Regions from separate parts of the Homo sapiens genome. Here region 1 is linked to region 2. The links come from fine-mapping of genetic effects on gene expression. A gene starts in region 2. The other region holds a variant in brackets. All regions are shown on one strand. Distances are between the middles of the regions. Region 1 overlaps PCSK5 (proprotein convertase subtilisin/kexin type 5). Region 2 holds the start of RFK (riboflavin kinase).

The links. PIP is the estimated chance that this variant, and not a neighbour inherited with it, causes the effect.
Region 1: its variant is the best candidate, but not a certain one, in a credible set for the expression of RFK in whole blood (INTERVAL, PIP 0.77).

Annotation. Positions count from the first base shown.
Region 1 is chr9:76,350,542-76,355,918 of GRCh38, reverse strand. PCSK5 (proprotein convertase subtilisin/kexin type 5) reads right to left here. Exons shown (of 38, transcript NM_001372043.1): 36 at 4,991-5,091; 37 at 1,700-1,886. Among named protein-coding and RNA genes, the nearest start is that of RFK, 41 kb to the left of the region's middle. The variant TG/G (reference allele first, on the strand shown) is at 3,030.
Region 2 is chr9:76,391,399-76,396,775 of GRCh38, reverse strand. RFK (riboflavin kinase) reads left to right here and starts at 2,350. Exons shown (of 4, transcript NM_018339.6): 1 at 2,350-2,686; 2 at 4,207-4,358. The coding sequence starts at 2,605. It also overlaps a transcript of GCNT1 not described here. RefSeq lists enhancers at 1,692-1,931, 2,109-2,403, 2,266-3,079 and silencers at 2,212-2,271, 2,292-2,371, 2,412-2,901.

The DNA of each region.
Region 1 (5,377 bases), 41 kb after region 2:
CAGTCTGGCCAACATGGTGAAACCCCTTCTGTACTAAAAATACAAAAATTAGCCGGGTGTGGTGGTGGGCACCTGTAATCCAAGCTACTCTGGAGGCTGAGGTAGAAGAATAGCTTGAACCCAGGAGACAGAGGTTGCCGTGAGCCGAGATTGTGCCATTGCACTCCAGCCTGGGTGACAGAGCCACACTCTGTCAAAACAAAAAAAGAAAAAGAAAAAGAAAGAAAGAAAGAAAGAAAATGCTAATCAAAAATAAAAAAGAAATGGCTGGTAGCAGTTATGGGTCTGGGATTTTCTTTACTTACAAATAGACCAACTCACAAATATGGCATCGCTTTTTGTCAGTGAATGTCACTTCTGAACCCCAAGGAAATTATCTACTTCTGGACTAGAGAGTATATTTTAAGAATATATGTTTCTTTTTTTTTCTTTTCTTTTCTTTTTTTGAGACGGAGTCTCGCTCTGTCACCCAGGCTGGAGTGCAGTGGCACGATCTTGGCTCACTGCGAGCTCTGCCTCCCGGGTTCACGCCATTCTCTTGCCTCAGCCTCCTGAGTAGCTGGGACTACAGGCGCCCGCCACCACGCCTGGCTAATTTTTTTGTATTTTTAGTAGAGACAGGGTTTCACTATGTTAGCCAGGACGTTCTCGATCTCCTGACCTTGTGATCCGCCCTCCTTGGCTCCGCAAAGTGCTGAGATTACAGGCGTGAGCCACCGCGCCCGGCCATGTTTCTTTTTTTAGAAGGAATCAGTCAGTTTGAGATCTTTCTAAGTTTGTGACCAATGAGAACCAAGTACCCACATGGATGGGGTTAGACGTGAGGATAGCTGAGGGACTGGAAATTGGTAAAGGGGGTTTTACTTCTTAGCCTTCAATAAAAATTCATTTCTAAAATGTCATAAGTCTCTGAGAGGCCTAGGTTTGGGCTGACTTTCATAGAATGATTCTTCAACAGAATCAGGATAATATTGACATCAGCTTCCTTGATAGTTAGTTCTTTTCTTTTTTTCCCAAGAGGGAAGAATAAAAAAAGGAACAAAGTAAATTCATAAAGATAAAATGCTAGCTCTACTTGAGTTCTAGTCTTGGAGGCAAGCAGAAAATCTAATTCCAGATGAACCATTTTTTAAAAAAAAATTTAGACAGCATCTTGCTCTGTCACCCAGGCTGAAGTGCAGTGGTGCGATCTCAGCTCACTGCAATCTTTGCCTCCTGGGCTCAAGAGATCCTCTCACCTCAGCCTTCCTGGTAGCTGGGATTACAGGTATGCACCACCACGCCCAGCTAATTTTTTATTTTTAGTAGAGAGGGATTTGCCATGTTGCTCAGGCTGGTCTCAAGCTCCTAGACTCAAGCCATCTGTCTGCCTCACCCTCCCAAAGTGCTGGGATTATTTACAGGCGTGAGCCACCACGCCTAGTCCCCAGATGAAACTTTTAATATTGGTATGGACTTGGCATGCGAATCCAACTCTTTGAGCCTCAGTCTCCTCATCTGTAAAATGGGACTGATAATCCCTACTTGTGAAGTGAGACAATGGTCATGAAGTTTCAAGTACAGTAGGCCCATAGTAGGCACTCAATAAAAAGGTAGCCATATTGATTCTCCTGAACTTTCCATCCCCCCCTCCCTCTGCTCCCATTGGCTTCTTGAGGACATGCCCTTCCTCTGCAGGCTGCTCTTGCTCTTCCCTCACCCGTGGTGTCCTGGCAGTCACAGCACTCCTGGGCACTGGGGGGATCAGAGGTGTTGCAGCAGTGGAGGCAGTGGCTGTCGTCCATGTGCAGCACCAGGTTGGCAGGGCACAAGGTGCAGTTCTTGGCCCCTGGTCCCTTGCATTCCATGCAGCTCTCGTGGCATTTTTCACAGTTAAACTTCTCTCCCTGTTAAGAGCAATCAAGAGGTTCCTTTTGAGTGTAAAGGGATTAACAAGGCACTGGAGTTCCCAGATTGTATCTCATCTTGTCTTCATAAGGAGGGAGATGTGTGGGGGACAGCAGAAGGATGGTGTGTTCTAAGCCCATTTTAACTGTGTTGGGTGAAAGAACCAACTGTCTGTGATGGGGTGGAATCACGGCTGGGCCCTGTCCTTTGAGATCTGCTAATAACAGTGGGAGAGCAGACGTCTAGAACAGTTTGGGTTAGGAGCTGACAGCTCCTGTGCTCAAGGACAGCTCAGGTCAAGGACTAGTTTTGTCTGGCCCACACTGTTGACTTTCAGTTTAAAATATTTTGCATTCATTTCCCGCATCTCAAAAGTGGGATATTTCACATGTAAATTTGTTCCTAATTTCTCTTTAGAAACTAGAAGACCTGTCAACACTGGATTCATCACTCCCACGTGGCGATGACCCCTCTTTCCACTCTTCTATTTGACATAATCCCCAGCACTTGCTATTATGTCACCAACATGTAGGTGATACATCAATTTCCACTTTCCTTCAAGCATCAAGCTTACACTGTGGTTTTCTTTGACCCAGCATTTATGTTAGTGACCTGCTTGGCCTCTGTGGTTACTGGATTATTGTGGTCTGCCCGCAGAATAATATAGGTTGTGGCTGTGTAGCTCAAGTAGTTAAATCTCTTTGGGAAGAGAGTGGAGAGATGAGAAGAAAGTGGCTTCCCTCCCGACAAGTTGCTCCTTGACTGGTGCTGGAAATGTGGGTTAGGGAAGATGCTTTCCTATTTTACTTCTGTAACTTTGGAAGTATGGTATGACAGAAAAAGAAGAAGGAATGGAAATTGCTTTTGTTGAGCACCTTGGCATGTTTCAGGCACAGACAAGGTGCTTTCTCAGCTGTTATTATCTCATTGAATCCTGCATCTCACATATTATCTCATCCTTCAGGTTTAATCCCAGCTTTGTTACTTAGCACTCATATAATTTTTTTTTTTGAGACGGGCTTACTTTTTTGCCCACACTGGAGTGCACTGGTGTGATCGGATTCAAGTGATCCTTCTGCTTCAGCCCCACAAGTAGCTGGGACTACAGGCATGTGCCACCATGTCCAGCTATTTTTTTTTTT[TG/G]TATTTTTTGTAGAGATGGGGTTTCACCATGTTGCCCAGGCTGTAATCTTTAACAAATTGTTTAACCTCTTTGAGCCTCAGTTTCTCTAAACTGTAATGACGGCTGTTGCCAGAATTTAAAGAGTGCTCATATGTAAATATGTTAGTTTGTGTTAATTTCATCATGGGGAGATTTACTTATTATCTAAAGTTCGAAAACATAATCAAGAAATTTGTGGTCTTGCCGGGCGCAGTGGCTCACACCTGTAATCCTAGCACTTTGGGAGGCTGAGGTGGGTGGATGGCTTGAGCCCAGGAGTTTGAGACCAGCCTGGGCAACATGGTGAGACCCCATCTCTACTAAAAATACAAAAAATTAGCTGGGCATCGTGGTCAGAAGCATTTCAACCACAGCAACTTCATCTTGAATAGGGGCTGGGTAAAATAAGGCTGAAACTTACTGAGCTACATTCCTAGATGGTTAGGCATTCTAAGTTATAGGATGAGATAGGAGGTTGGCACAAGATACAGATCATAAAGGCCTTGCTGATAAAACAGCTTGCAGTAAAGAGCCAGCCAAAACCCACCTAAACCAAGATGGCAATGAGAGTGACCTCTGATGGTTCTCACTGCTACACTCCCACCAGCGCCGTGGCAGTTTACAAATGCCATGGCAACATCAGGAAGTTACCCTATATGGTCTAAAAAGGGAAGTCATGAATAATCCATCCTTTGTTTAGCGTATCATTAAGAAATAACCATAAAGATGGGCAAGCAGCAGCCCTCACAGCTGCTCTGTCTATGCAGTAGCCATCCTTTTATCCCTCTACTTTCTTAATAAACTTGTTTTCACTTTACTCTATGGATTTGCCCTGAATTCTTTCTTGTGTGAGATCCAAGAACCCTCTTTTGGGGTCTGGACTGGGACCCCTTTCCAGTAGCATCTTTCTGGTGACCACAGAAGTGACAATAGCGAGGGAACCCCCAACCCAAAGGCTAACTTTGGGTAAGTGGTGTAGACCAGTGACATGGTAGTCCCAGCTATTCAGGAGGCTGAGGTGGGAGGATCACCTGAGCCCAGGAGGTCAAAGCTGCAATGAGCTGTAATTGCGCCACTGCACTCCAGCCTGGGTGACAGAGTGAGACCCTGTCTCAAAGAAAAAAAAAAAAAATTCATGGTTTCAGAAAATCCATGGCAAATGAATCTCCTTCCTTCCTCCCTCCCTACCTCTTTCTTTCTTTCTTTCTTTCTCTCTCTCTTTCTTTCTTCTTTCTCTCTCTTTCTTTCTCTTTCTTTTTCTTTCTTCTCTTTCTTTCTCTCTCTCCTTCCTCCCTTCCCTTCCTTCTCTCTCTCTCTTCTTTCTCTTTCTTTCCTTCCTTTCTTTCTTTCTTTCTTTCTTTCTTTCTTTCTTTCTTTCTTTCTTTCTTTCTTTCTTTCTTTCTTTCTTTCTTTCTTTCTTTCCTTTCTTTCACATTGCAGGGGGGGGCGGTTTCTGGTAGAAACCAGAAATTCTAAAGAGCTGTAACACTGCAAATGAATTCTTCTTAATACACTGTAAAGTGGTAAAGGAAGCAAAAGACCAACATTAGCTGTGTGGTTCCTATGTTACTCACACATTTCTGCTTAGACCAGACAGAAGTAAGAGAGAAGGTAGTTTGTATTCTGACATAGTATTCTTATGTTGACTGAAACTTCTATGGTGATGAATAACAAATGTAGAATTCATTCCGAGGCCCTCACGACTTAACTTCCCCATTATCTTAGATCTTCTCAGTTCCTTTTGAGTAAAGCTAAGGCTACAGGTGGGTAGCACCATTATTCCATGATGCAACGGTAGAAGGTTTTAAAATACTAAACATACACTATTTCTATAGTATGAGAATTTTGGGACATTTTGATTGCCCAGAATGACATGCAGGAAGTAAGCTCATGTTTCCCTCTAGAAAGAGCAGAAGGCCCAGGACCCCCAGCCCTCCATACCTCTCCCACTCTGTATTCCCCCACAAGACAGTCCGAGGTGCAGATCCCTCCCATGAGGTGGTAACTCCACACACAGGATAAACAATTCAACGCTCCTTTTCCTGAAAGAGAAAACATTCTAAGTTATGAGATTGACCTTAGATTTCAACTTCTGTCTTTGTTCCGGAACACTTAGGAACAAGGAATATGTCAAGTAAATTGAAGCAGAAGGGTGAATTGATTGAGGATACGAAAAAGAAAAAAGTCTCCCACACAAAGTAGAAATTATACAATTAGTTCAATCTATGTAGACTCTCAGTCTGAAAATTGAGGATTTGGGGATGACAGATCTTTTATTACAGCAAGAGGAAAGAGTTTCAGAGAATGAGAAATCATGTAGAAAGTTTA
Region 2 (5,377 bases):
ACTGCCGCCAGGTTCGAGCGACTCTTGTGCCTCGGCCTCCAGGGTATCTAGGACCACAGGTGAGCGCCACCACTCCCGGCTAATTTTTGTATTTTTTGTAGAGACGGGGTTTCACCATGTTGCCCAGGCTGGTCTCCAACTCCTGAGCTCAAGTGATCCACCGGCCTCAGCCTCCCAAAGTGCTGGGATTACAGGCATGAGCCACTGTGCCAGGCCCTGGCTGATTTTTAAAATTTTCTTTCTTATTTTCTCCTCTTCTTTTCTTTCCCCTTTCTTCTTTTTTTTCTTGTTTCTTTTCTTTTCTTTCTTTTTTCTCTCTTTCTTACTTATTTTTATTTTAAAATTTTTGGATAGACGGAAGTCTCCCTATTTTGCCCAGGCTGGTCTTGAACTCCTCAGCTCAAGAGATCCGCTCACCTCGGTCTCCCAGAGTGCTGGGATTACAGGCGTAAGCCACCATGCCCCGCCCATTTTTATACGTTTAGGTTAATGCTTTCCAACAAAGCTGATGAGAGGATTACATGAGACAGTGTGAAAAATACTTAGCATTTTCTCTATTCTTAAAACCACCCCTCCTCATTTACCTCCTATGATTCATTTAATTATTTTATCTCATTTAATTCTCATACCTTCTTGCAACCTAGGGCTTAGTGGCGTAAGACCCAGGGATGATTTATCAAGTTCTCACCTCCAGGCTTTTCTTATTAGGTGTATCACTGCTGATGAAGTTAAAAATATACCATTCTTGCATATTGACTATTTTGAATTAAAAGCACTTGAAAAACAATAGATACAAAAAAATCATTCTGACCTCTTTTCTGTTTCTTAGAAGCAGATGAAATTACCATATGAGAGACATCCTCCCTATATTAGAAGGAATGCAGCACTCTTATTAAGGACGGGAGTCAAGAGTGAGAGAATCCTGTACACACCTTGCTAAAATAACTCTTAAGCCTCTCCAGATAACTTAATTGCTTTTCACAACTTGCTATTACTACTCTTACTACCGGTATTACTATTATCGTTATTCTCATTATTCTTTGTTTAATTCCGTATAGATAAGTAACTGACCATAATTGCTTCTTTGGGTCCTTCTCTCCCTTCCCTTCCCTTTTCTTCCCTTTCACTTTCCCTTCCCCTTTCCTTTCCCTTCCCTCCCTTCCTTCTTCTTCTCTAGTTCTTTTAAGGGGTGAGGGTGTCTCACTGTGTCGCCCAGTCTGGAGTGCAGTGGCGTTATCATAGCTCAGTGCAGCCTCGACCTCCTGGGCTCAATCAATCCTCCCGCGTCGGCCTCTCAAACTACTGGGAATACAGGCGTGAGCCACCAAGCCTGGCCTAGAACATAAATTTAATATCAGGTAAATCTTATCAGAGATGCATACATGTAAGGTAGAAAGAGACTACACGGTCTGCACAGAATTTTATACAAATGTATAGAGCAAAAAAGAAAAAAATTAAACTTCTCTGGATTCCATTGATTAAAAATTTAAAAAAATAAATAAAAAACTTCTTTGTCTTCGAGACGTTAAGAGGATGCACCTTCTTATAACCTTGCACCCTGCATATCCTGTGAGTGAGCCCAGAGCTACTTCCCTAGGAGCGTGCGTATTTACAGTTCCGAGGGTACGAAGGCCTCTATCTGCATTGCAGTAGAGGGACGGCCTGTTATCGGGCTTGTGAAATTGTCAAGAAGACAGCCTGGAGGGGACAGTCACCGCCCATGTCGGTAACCTTCCACTAGTCTCTGGGGTTAACAGCGTCACAGACAGGGACTTCTCCCTTGGAGCTTACATTCGAATATATTAATAACTCCAGAACGTGGTCAGTGGTCCTGGAGGACGACCGCTTCTGGTAGGGCGGCCAGGAAAAGCCTCTGTGAAGAGGCGATCTTTGAGCTGAATTTTGGAGCTTTAATAAATACTTAAAGAGCGAACGGAACGAGCGATGCCTGACGTTCAACCCAGCGGTTGCCAAGGAGCTAAAGAGCGTCTCACTTTGGCTTCCGGATTGTTATGAACAGGAGGAAGGAGAAAAAAAAACCAGAATTGTTCGAGAATTGTGCTTTCGCGGCTCTCAGGCTGAAAACGGGGTTTCCACATTAGTTCCCATCGCCAGGGGCTGAAACGAAGCCCGGGATCCAGACATTAGGCGCCTGGGGCGGGAGCCTGCAGCGGGAGCTTGCGGCGGGAGCCGGGCGAGGCAGCGGCGGGGCGGGGCCATGATGGGGCGGGGCTACGGAAGCCGAGCGGGCTCGAGGCGTTCGGCTGAGGAAGGGAGCGCACGCCGGCGGCGCGGAGGCCGGCTCTGCGCTTCGGGCCGCCCCCTCCCCCCACCCCGCTCACACCCGGCACTTACTTCGGCTGTCTCCGCTGCCCTCCAGCGGAGACGCAGCTCCTCAGGCGCCCGGCGGTATTTGTTGGGTCGGCGGCGTCAGGGATTCGCAGTGGCCTGTGGTCGGCGTCGTCCGGCCACTGGTGCGCCCCCGCGGCAGGCAGAGCTCACGCTCCTGTCCCCCGGCTGGTCCGGGGTCTGGGCGCCGCGTCGACGGCGGCTCCGCAGGACGCGCAGACCGGGCCGCAGCCCATTCCCCGAGCGGACTGCATTATGAGGCACCTGCCTTACTTCTGCCGGGGTCAAGTGGTGCGGGGCTTCGGCCGCGGCTCCAAGCAGCTGGGCATCCCCACAGGTGAGAGCAGGGCGGCCAGAGTCCCCCGGGCCGGGTCACGTGGGGAGCGGGGAGAGACGGCAGCCGGGGACTTGGGACCGGGGCGTGGGGCCTCCGGACCGCGGGCAGAGAGCACACCCTTCCTCCTCCCGCATCCCCTTGTCTGTGGCGGAGGACCGTTGGCTCGGTTGAGGGAGCTTGTCCCTGCTTCTGGCTCCGAGCTCCGCGGGGACGGGGTTGAGGGGTGGTGAGGGCCGGAAGCCCGAGATGAATCGCAGGATTCCCCGTTCACGCCTCCTTGGCCAGCCAAGGTACAGTTGGTCAAGCATTGCGCTTGTCTTGCCCATTAGAGACGTAACGTGGGCCAGAACGGCTGAACTCGCAAGCCGGGTCTAAGGTGGTTTTGTTTTTAATTTGTAATTATGTAATGTCCAAATGATAACATAGGTAGTTGAATGAGAGTCAGCTAACCTTCTTGGTCTGTCTACATTAATTTCAATAATCGAGACCTGACTGTAATTCATCCTTAGAAATACATGCCAGAGCTGCGTCTTGACTTGTTAAGTCAGCCTTGAGCTTGTGTATTTGAAAAATAAGAAGCTTTGGCCGGGCGTGGTGGCTCACGCCTGTAATCCCAGCACTTTGGGAGGCCGAGGCGGGCGGATCATCTGAGCTCAGGAGTTCGAGATCAGCCTGGCCAACATGGTAAAACCCCGTCTCTGCTAAAAATACAAAAATTAGCTGGGCATGGTGGCGCGTGCCTGTCATCCCAGCTACTCGGGAACCTGAGGCAGGAGAATCGCTTGAACCCAGGAGACGGAGGCTGCAGTGAGGCGAGATCGTGCCACTGCCCTCCAGCCTGGGCGACAGAGTGAGACACCGTCTCAAAAAAAAAAAAAAAAGAAAGAAACTTTTCAGGTGATTCAGTACCTGGTTAGGAAAGAACAGATCTGAAAAAATCCATCTACTCTGGTACTTGTTTTTTGCATCCTACTCAAAGAGTATGGATTTTTTTGGAGAGCTTTATATACTTACCTGGTACTTTATTCATAACCTATTCACATGAATAGGAGAGGGAAATCTGAGCCGGAAAATGGAAGGATGGGATTGATACTTACAGGCAAAGTTGTAGGAGTCTTGTGAATGTAATGATTTACATTAGCCTTGCATGTGATTTTTACAAATGTTTGTTTCTTATTATTATTTTGAGACAGAATCTGGCTCTGCCACTCAGGCTGGAGTGCAGTGGTAGTGCGATCATAGCTTACTGCAGCCTCCATCTGCTGGGCTCAACTGACCCTCCTGCCTCAGCCTCTCTGGTAGCTTAGACTATAGGTGCAGGCCACCATCCCCAGCTAATTTTTTAATAGAGGTAAGATCTCACTATGTTACCCGGGCCGGTCTCAAACCCCAGAGCTCAACATGAGCCTCCTGCCTTGGCCTCTCAAAGTCCTAGAATTACAGACATGAGCCACTGCACTCGGCTACAGGCATTTAATACGAAATTTGTAAGACTCAAAATATTTTCTTCTGTTGTTTAGCTAATTTTCCTGAGCAAGTGGTAGATAATCTTCCAGCTGATATATCCACTGGTATTTACTATGGTTGGGCCAGTGTTGGAAGTGGAGATGTCCATAAGATGGTGGTGAGCATAGGATGGAACCCATATTACAAGAATACGAAGAAGTCTATGGTAAGCATTATATTTTGCTCTGTAACCGAAAATGGTATGATGACTTAGAATAATATATTACAGTATTCGTTACAGAAATAGCTTATCAGTGGTAATCACAACGTAGTTCAAATACTGGAATTTTGGGCAATCTCTGTCTTTTAATTGGAGAGTTTAATTCATTTACATTTAAAGTAATTTCTGATAAGGAGGGACATCTACTGTTTTGCTATTTGTTTTTTATATGCCTTATAACTTTTATGTCCCTCATTTCCTCTATTACTGCCTTTTGTGGTAGTGTGCTTTTTGTTTTGTTTTGTTTTGTAGTGACATTTTAATTCCTTTCTCATTGCTTTCTGTGTATTTCTATAGATACTGTCTTTGTGGTTACCATGGGGTTTATATTTAACATCCTGAAATTCTAAAAGTTTAATTTGAGTTTATACCAACTTAATTTCAATAGCATACAGAACTCAGAAATTGCATCTTTTTTTTTTTTTTTAAAGATGGGGTCTCACTATGTTGCCCAGACTGAAGTGCAGTAGCTGTTCACAGGCCAGGTTGTAGCACACTGTAGCTTCAAACTCATGGGCTCAAGTAATCCTCCTCCAGCCTCCAGAGAGCTGGGACTATAGGTACATGCCACTGCCTGCATCTGGCTCAGATTACATCCTTATACATTGTGGTACCCAATAACAAAGATTAATAATTGGTTTTTTTATGCATTTATTTTTTAAATTATGTAGAAAATAAAGAGTGGAGTTACAAACCAAAATTATAATACTGACTTTGATAATTGCTGTCTGTGAAAGACTCACTTGACCAAAGATAAAAATGATTTAAAAGCCTGTTTCATAAAATTGAGCTTGCCACAATTAATGCACTTCATTCACCATTTACTTCATGCATCAATTGCGCTTGGTCACCCTCTTAAGATAAAACAGTTTACTACATGGATGGTGGATGGAGGATGGTGCTTATTGATACAGTCCCACATTGGTGCTTTTCTCTTTCCTTTTTAAACCACCTGAGGGTATACT